Homo sapiens: one gene and its partner. The protein of the gene in region 2 purifies or fractionates together with the protein of the main gene of each other region. This does not show direct contact. Each region holds a gene or a part of one and is shown on either strand. Other genes may lie near its edges.

Region 1 (3,653 bases), on a different chromosome or scaffold from region 2:
CTGTCTCCCAGGTTCAAGCAATTCTTCTTGCCTCAGCCTCCCGAGTAGCTGGGACTACAGGTGCACGCCACCATGCCCAGCTAATTTTTGTATATTCAGTAGAGACAAGGTTTCACCATGTTGGCCAGGATGGTCTCGATTTCTTGACCTCGTGATCTGCCCGCCTTGGCCTCCCAAAGTGCTGGAATTACAGGCGTGAGCCACCACACCTGGCTTCAAGCAGTCATAATTTTATGTTTCCTAACACCCAGAGTTCAAGTTCAATATTATAATAATTAACAAATCTAAAATTGCCAGGAAAAACAAATGGAAGTGCAAGTCCCTCTAATGTATATAAAAAGCTGGCCTGTCAAATTACATTGCTGGTATTAAAAGAAATCACAGTGCTTATATAAGCTAATTCTTCTCTCCTCTTTCTCCTCTCACTATACAGATAGGGAAACTGAGAATCAAGGAGGTGAATTACCTTAAACCTTGCGGAAAATAAAACAGTGGTAGCACCAAGGCTAGAATCTTTTGGATCTCCTGACTCCCAAAACAGTGCTATATAGTATGTTAAATACCACCCCATAAGCAAATATCATGAAAAGAATTCCTGGAAAAAGTAAAACTAAAAAGTAAATCTCATAAAATGAAAAATACCTAAACATAATCTAGCAAAAATACAATAACAACTTTTTAAAAAAAGTTTTCAAACATCTCAGCTATAATAACAATGAAAGGCATATAAATAAAGGAAGAATCACTTAAACAAGGAATCCACTTCAAAACTTTTTAAATGCCTGAATACATACTTGAATTTGGAGTGGGTGAATCATTAGTTTCATTAACATTTCCTGATCTGGTAAAACAGAATCCAAATCTAGTTCTTGACATTTCACAGCCTAAAAATTACAATAAAAAAGTTACTAATTCAATTCTTATTTCTGAAAATTAAAAAAAAAAGAACAGAATTGTTTAATGACAGTCTTACCTTACTCAAAAACATAGCATAGTAACGATGTAGTGGCAGATGAAAAGTGACTTGGTTAGGTGCTGGCTGGAATAAACAAACAAAATGCACAAGTCAAAGACTATTTTATAGAAATTTTAAGATGGTTGTAAAATGTTTAAACCATACTCTCACCTGGATTTATTCCTATACTTTTAGTTCAAAACTTAACATTTTAGAAGATGCAGATTCCAAAATCACTATAGATAAAATTTTTCCATTTTAAACACTTAAGTATAAGTTTCTTGAAGGCAGAAATTGTATTCTACTCAACTTTGAATCCTCTGAAGCATCCAGTACAGATTAATATTTCCTAAATTCAATTCAGCTAAAGCAAATAATTATTATTAAAACAAGGGATGGAATGGATTTCCAGCTACAGTAGACCATTTGGGACTCTTCAAACGCATGTATACCAAACATCATGACAGTAATAACAGTCACATATAACATTCATTGAACACTTCCTATGTGCCAGTCACCATGCTAAGCACTTTATTCACATTACCACATTTAATCCTCAGAAGAATGCTATGGGGTAGGAGCTACTAATATTCTCATTCTACAAGTAGCAAAATTCAAACTTAGAAAACTTAACTAACTTCCTAAAGTTCAAAAGTAGTGAACTGGGGAGCTAATCTGGACTCCACTGTCATATTCAAAACTGTAAGAAGACTCTGACCACATCCCTAAACAGAGGTATAAATGCAGGGCATCGTTAGATTCCTTCACCAGTTAGATAAGATGCTTCCAAACAGTACCAAACGCACCAGCCTCCATAACAAAACTTCATAAAAAATATGTGAATGACCTTAGGCATTCCTGTAAATATTACAAAAACTGTATTTTAAATCTGTGAATCCCATGGATCACAAAATCACTACAGGGCAAAAATACACCACAGCTGTCCTTCTTAAACAAATGAGTTAAGAACTGAAAAGGTATTGTTTGTTTTTAATGCTTTTTAAGTTCTTATTAAATATTCTCTTGTTAAAAATGTTTATCCCGGACATTCAGATAATTATGCTAATGTATATAATTTACATTATAGAGGTTATAAGGAGTCTAAATATGTCACCATCCCTGAAATAATTATTTTTTTCAAAACCAGTAAGATAATAATATCCTCTTCAATATGTAAAGGCTATAAAAATTTGTTCTAATAAATAAAAGTTTGCCCTCCATAAAAAGAAAGGAAAGTCTAACAATGTTCTGTAACATGAATAAACCTTCGGGATATTATGCTAAGTAAAATAAGCCAGTCACAAAAAGACAGTAACTATATGATTCCACCTATATGAGGTTCTTAGAGCAGCCAAATTCGTAGAGATACAAAGTAGAATGGTGGTTGCCAGAAGCTGGGGGAAGAGGAAATGGGGAGTAGCTATTTAATGAGTATAGTTTCAATTTTATGAGATAAAAAAGTTATGGAGATTGGCTGCACGACAATACAAATACACATAACACTACTGAACTATACACTTAAAAATGATTAAGATAGTGAATTTTATGTTTTCTGTGTATTTTACCACAATTAAAAATAAAATTTTAAAAAGTTTGCCCTCCATTACCATAATCGCCTTAGTAACATATTCTACACTAACTAGCTAAGTCAGAATCTCCCTCAATTTCCTTTGAGGCACTAAGCACAGTGGATAAGTGCAGACTCTTTTTTTTTTTTTTTTTTTAAATAGACAGGGTCTCACTCTGTGGCCCAGGGTGGAGTATGGTGGCACGATCACAGTTCGCTGCAACCTCCACCTCCCGGGCTCAAGTCATCCTCCCTCCTCGGCCCCCTGAGCAGCTGGGACTACAGACACACACCACCATGCCTGGCTAATTTCTGTTTTTGGTAGAGACAGGGTTTTTGCCATGTTGCCCAGACTGCTCTCGAACTCCTGGGCTCATGCAATCTGCCCGCCTCAGCCTCCCAAAGGATTGGAATTATAGACGTGAACCACCAGGCCCAGCCTAGGTGCAGACCCTTTTTTTGAGTCTCGCACTGTCCCCCAGACTGGAGTACGGTGGCGCGATCTCAGCTCACTGCAACCTCTGCCTCCCGGGTTCAAGCAATTCTCCTGCCTCAGCCTCCTGAGTAGCTGGGACTACAGGCATGTATTACCACACCGGCTAATTTTTGTATTTTTAGTAGAGACAGGGTTTCACCATGTTGCCCAGGCTGGTCTCAAACACCTGACCTCAAGTGATCCACCTGCCTCGGCCTCCCAAAGTGCTGGGACCAAAGGCGTGAACCACTGTGCCTGCTTCCTAAGTGCAGAATCCTGGTTCTACCACCCAGCTGTAAAACTATGGGCAAGTTACCTCTCTGTGCCTAAGTTGTCTGATCCTTAAAGTAGGAATAATAAAGAGTTTAGTAGCTGCGAGAAATAAGTAAAACAGCACAGTACCCAGTACATATTGCTATTAACTAGTAAGCCATGGACCCTATTTTATCTTTCAGGGCTTTAGCATATCCTATGTTCACATTCTCCATAACGTTAAAGTCCATATTCCTTCCTTGTCTAATGTCACAGACTGGCTACTTGATAAGCACTTCTTCTATTCCTATATATACTGAGAGTCCTTGGATTCCATTCTTCACTCTATAGTCTTCTATGTGAATTTATCCAGATTCACAGCTTCAGCTGCTAACTCTACCCAG
Region 2 (3,653 bases):
ATCTAAGATCAGGAGTTCGAGACCAGTCTGGCTAACATGTCGAAACCCCGTCTCTACTAAAAATACAAAAATTTGCCGGGCGTGGTAGCACACACTTGTAATTCCAGCTACCTGGGAGGCTGAGGCAGGAGAATCACTTGTACCCGGGAGGCAGATGTTGCGGTGAGCCGAGATCATGCCACTCAGCAGCAGAGTGAGACTCCGAGCAGGAGAGGACAGACAGCTGGGGTCCCTGGGGAAAGAGAAAGCTGGGCCTTGACTCTCACATCGGGGAGACTAGGAGAGGGCAGAAGGCTGGCACATTGAGGTAACTGGGGAAATTGGGAACTGAAAGCCCAGACTCCTGGCTCAAAGGGAGAAGGGGATTAGGGGCCCAGACTCCTGGGATGGAGGAACCAGGGACTGGACACCTAGGCCAGTGACGGAGGTGTTCCTGGTCCTTGCCCATCTGACCATTGTCCCACCCTCACAGACCCCCCAGAGGTGACTCTGTCTGCTTCGCCACACACTGTGCAGGAGGGAGAGAAGGTCATTTTCCTGTGCCAGGCCACAGCCCAGCCTCCTGTCACAGGCTACAGGTGAGGACGAAGACCCACCTCTCCCCAGCCCCAAGAGTGAGCTTGGGAAGGGCTGGGACCTGAGTAGGTGTGCCAGAGAGGCCAGGACAACGTTAACAGCGCCACCATTTCCTCAGGTGGGCAAAAGGGGGCTCTCCGGTGCTCGGGGCCCGCGGGCCAAGGTTAGAGGTCGTGGCAGACGCCTCGTTCCTGACTGAGCCCGTGTCCTGCGAGGTCAGCAACGCCGTGGGTAGCGCCAACCGCAGTACTGCGCTGGATGTGCTGTGTGAGCTGGGGCCGGCCTGTGGGTGTGGTCAAAGGTGGCCGTGGCTTTCAGGGCTGTTGAGGGTCGGGGCCTGGAGGGGCGGGGCCGGGAGAGCGAGCGTGGGGTATTAGGAGGAGGAGAGTGTGGAGCTGGGGCATATTCTTGCGCCCTAGAGGGTGTGGTGTTTCTGTGGGGCTGGCTGATCCCAGGTCAGTGGCTGCATTCCGCCCCGGCCATGTGACCCCTAGTCTCTTTCGTCCAGTTGGGCCGATTCTGCAGGCAAAGCCGGAGCCCGTGTCCGTGGACGTGGGGGAAGACGCTTCCTTCAGCTGCGCCTGGCGCGGGAACCCGCTTCCACGGGTAACCTGGACCCGCCGCGGTGGCGCGCAGGTACAGCCCTAAATCTGAGGCGGTGGCTGGAGGGGGACCAGGCTTCCTTACAAATCCGGCTTCTGACGCCCCTTCCCTGTCGCAGGTGCTGGGCTCTGGAGCCACACTGCGTCTTCCGTCGGTGGGGCCCGAGGACGCAGGCGACTATGTGTGCAGAGCTGAGGCTGGGCTATCGGGCCTGCGGGGCGGCGCCGCGGAGGCTCGGCTGACTGTGAACGGTGAGAAGGCGGGGCTTCCTAGGGGACCTGGCCCGTCCTGGGATAGGGAGCGGACAGAGGGGGCAAGGGCTAATGCAGTGGGAGTGGCCTGGAAGGAGCTTTACACCCAGCGGGGGCTGGAGACCGGACCTATTGAAGGCGAGGCTTTTAGGAGAATCGGAGTTTGGAGGCGGCGTGGCCTGATTGATTGAGGTTAGCGGAGAGTGCGCTGGACAGACCCGGCTTTGTTACAGCCTTTGGGGAGGGCAAGACCTCTCCTCTGAGTGACCTACAGTCTCCATCCCAGCTCCCCCAGTAGTGACCGCCCTGCACTCTGCGCCTGCCTTCCTGAGGGGCCCTGCTCGCCTCCAGTGTCTGGTTTTCGCCTCTCCCGCCCCAGATGCCGTGGTAAGGAAATGTCACTCCTCCCGTGACCCATCCAGCCGTGATCCCTGACCTCCCACCTGGCCCCCCGAAACTACTGTGACCATTTCTGACTTCCCAGACATCCCTCCTGCTTCTTCCTCCCCTCCTCAGTCTCCTCCGTGTCCTCCCTCTTTTGTGCCCCCAGGTCTGGTCTTGGGATGAGGGCTTCCTGGAGGCGGGGTCGCAGGGCCGGTTCCTGGTGGAGACATTCCCTGCCCCAGAGAGCCGCGGGGGACTGGGTCCGGGCCTGATCTCTGTGCTACACATTTCGGGGACCCAGGAGTCTGACTTTAGCAGGAGCTTTAACTGCAGTGCCCGGAACCGGCTGGGCGAGGGAGGTGCCCAGGCCAGCCTGGGCCGTAGAGGTGAGACCCCAGCCCGAAGACCCCAAATCTGGAGAGTCTAAACCCCACAAACGCAGGGATCCCCCAGCCGAGGGCTGCAAAACCTCATACCCTCAAATGCAGAGGAGACCTCCAAACCTCGGGAGTCTCAAAACTGTGGGCTCATTGATTCCCAAGACACCCCTCAACCACAAATGCCTTCACATTCTGAATCCTAAACTGAGAGACTCCTCACACCTAGGGGCCCCAAAAAGGGAAACTCCAATGATTGCAAAGCAAATTGCAAAGTAAAGGACCCCTCAAATTCTAAGACTCCCTAAAGCCAGGGAGTTTAAACTCACTCTCAAACTTGGGGAACCCCAAATTCAAGGGCCTTTGAATCTTCAAATGTGCGACCTTTTGAACCCAGGAATCCCAAACTCAATCCCTGAGCCCCCGCTTCCTGGTTCCCCCTCAGCCTTCTCAGGATGTCCCCTCTGCTCCCTGCAGACTTGCTGCCCACTGTGCGGATAGTGGCCGGAGTGGCCGCTGCCACCACAACTCTCCTTATGGTCATCACTGGGGTGGCCCTCTGCTGCTGGCGCCACAGCAAGGGTTAGTGCCTGAGCCCCGCCCCGGCTCCCGAGGCCCCAGCCCCACACGCGCCCTGCCTGCCCAGTGACCTGACCTGGCCTTGGGCCTTGGCTCCAGTCCCATTTCCAGCTCTGCACAGGGCTTAGCTCTCCTTCACGTTCTGGTTCCCTCCTTAAGCCCTAACTAGGCCTTCCCAGGGTCACACTCCTCGGTGGGAATGATTCTTATTGGTTTCCAACAGCCCTACCCAATCAGCCTCATTGGTTCCCAGTCCTCTCTCTTCCCGCTTATTGGTCTGCACACATTGTGACCCCGCCCATCGCTTAACTCCACCGGTCGCTGTTTGTCAGCCTCAGCCTCTTTCTCCGAGCAAAAGAACCTGATGCGAATCCCTGGCAGCAGCGACGGCTCCAGTTCACGAGGTCCTGAAGAAGAGGAGACAGGCAGCCGCGAGGACCGGGTAGGATGCCAGGGTCCCCAGACCTGACTGTGCCTCCAGACCTAAATAATAGCCCAGTCCCAAGAGGGTCCCCAAATTCAAATAGGACTCTAAGGCCAGGCATGGTGCCTGACGTTGGTAATACCACTTTGGGAGGTGGAGACACAAGGATCACTTAAGGCCAGGAATTCAAAGCCAGCCTGGACAGCATAGCAGGACCCCATCTCTACAAAAATACAAACTAAAATAAAATAAAAAATGAACCGGGTATGGTGGCATACACCTATAGTCCCAGCTACTCAGGACACTGAGGTGGGAGGATCCCTTGAGCACAGGAGGTAAAGGCTGCAGTGAGCTATGATTGCACCATGCACTCCAGCCTGGGCTACAGAGCAAGACCCTGTCTCCATTTTTTTTTTTTTTTTTTATGTAGGAGGGCTCTAGTCTTTTTTTTTTTGGCAG

What was found.
Region 1: the proteins of KIRREL2 (region 2) and UBR3 purify together in Homo sapiens (affinity purification with mass spectrometry; one large-scale study listed by BioGRID and IntAct). This does not show direct contact.

The regions. Positions count from the first base shown.
Region 1 is NC_000002.12:169,921,315-169,924,967, reverse strand, and holds part of UBR3 (E3 ubiquitin-protein ligase UBR3), read right to left. Parts: intron 1,040-3,653; coding exon 974-1,039; intron 885-973; coding exon 795-884; intron 1-794. UniProt on the Homo sapiens protein: E3 ubiquitin-protein ligase which is a component of the N-end rule pathway. Does not bind to proteins bearing specific N-terminal residues that are destabilizing according to the N-end rule, leading to their ubiquitination and subsequent degradation.
Region 2 is NC_000019.10:35,859,825-35,863,477, forward strand, and holds part of KIRREL2 (kin of IRRE-like protein 2 isoform c precursor), read left to right. Parts: intron 1-472; coding exon 473-578; intron 579-694; coding exon 695-843; intron 844-1,084; coding exon 1,085-1,212; intron 1,213-1,297; coding exon 1,298-1,430; intron 1,431-1,716; coding exon 1,717-1,817; intron 1,818-1,980; coding exon 1,981-2,200; intron 2,201-2,668; coding exon 2,669-2,773; intron 2,774-3,090; exon of another isoform or gene 3,091-3,102; coding exon 3,103-3,212; intron 3,213-3,653. UniProt on the Homo sapiens protein: May regulate basal insulin secretion.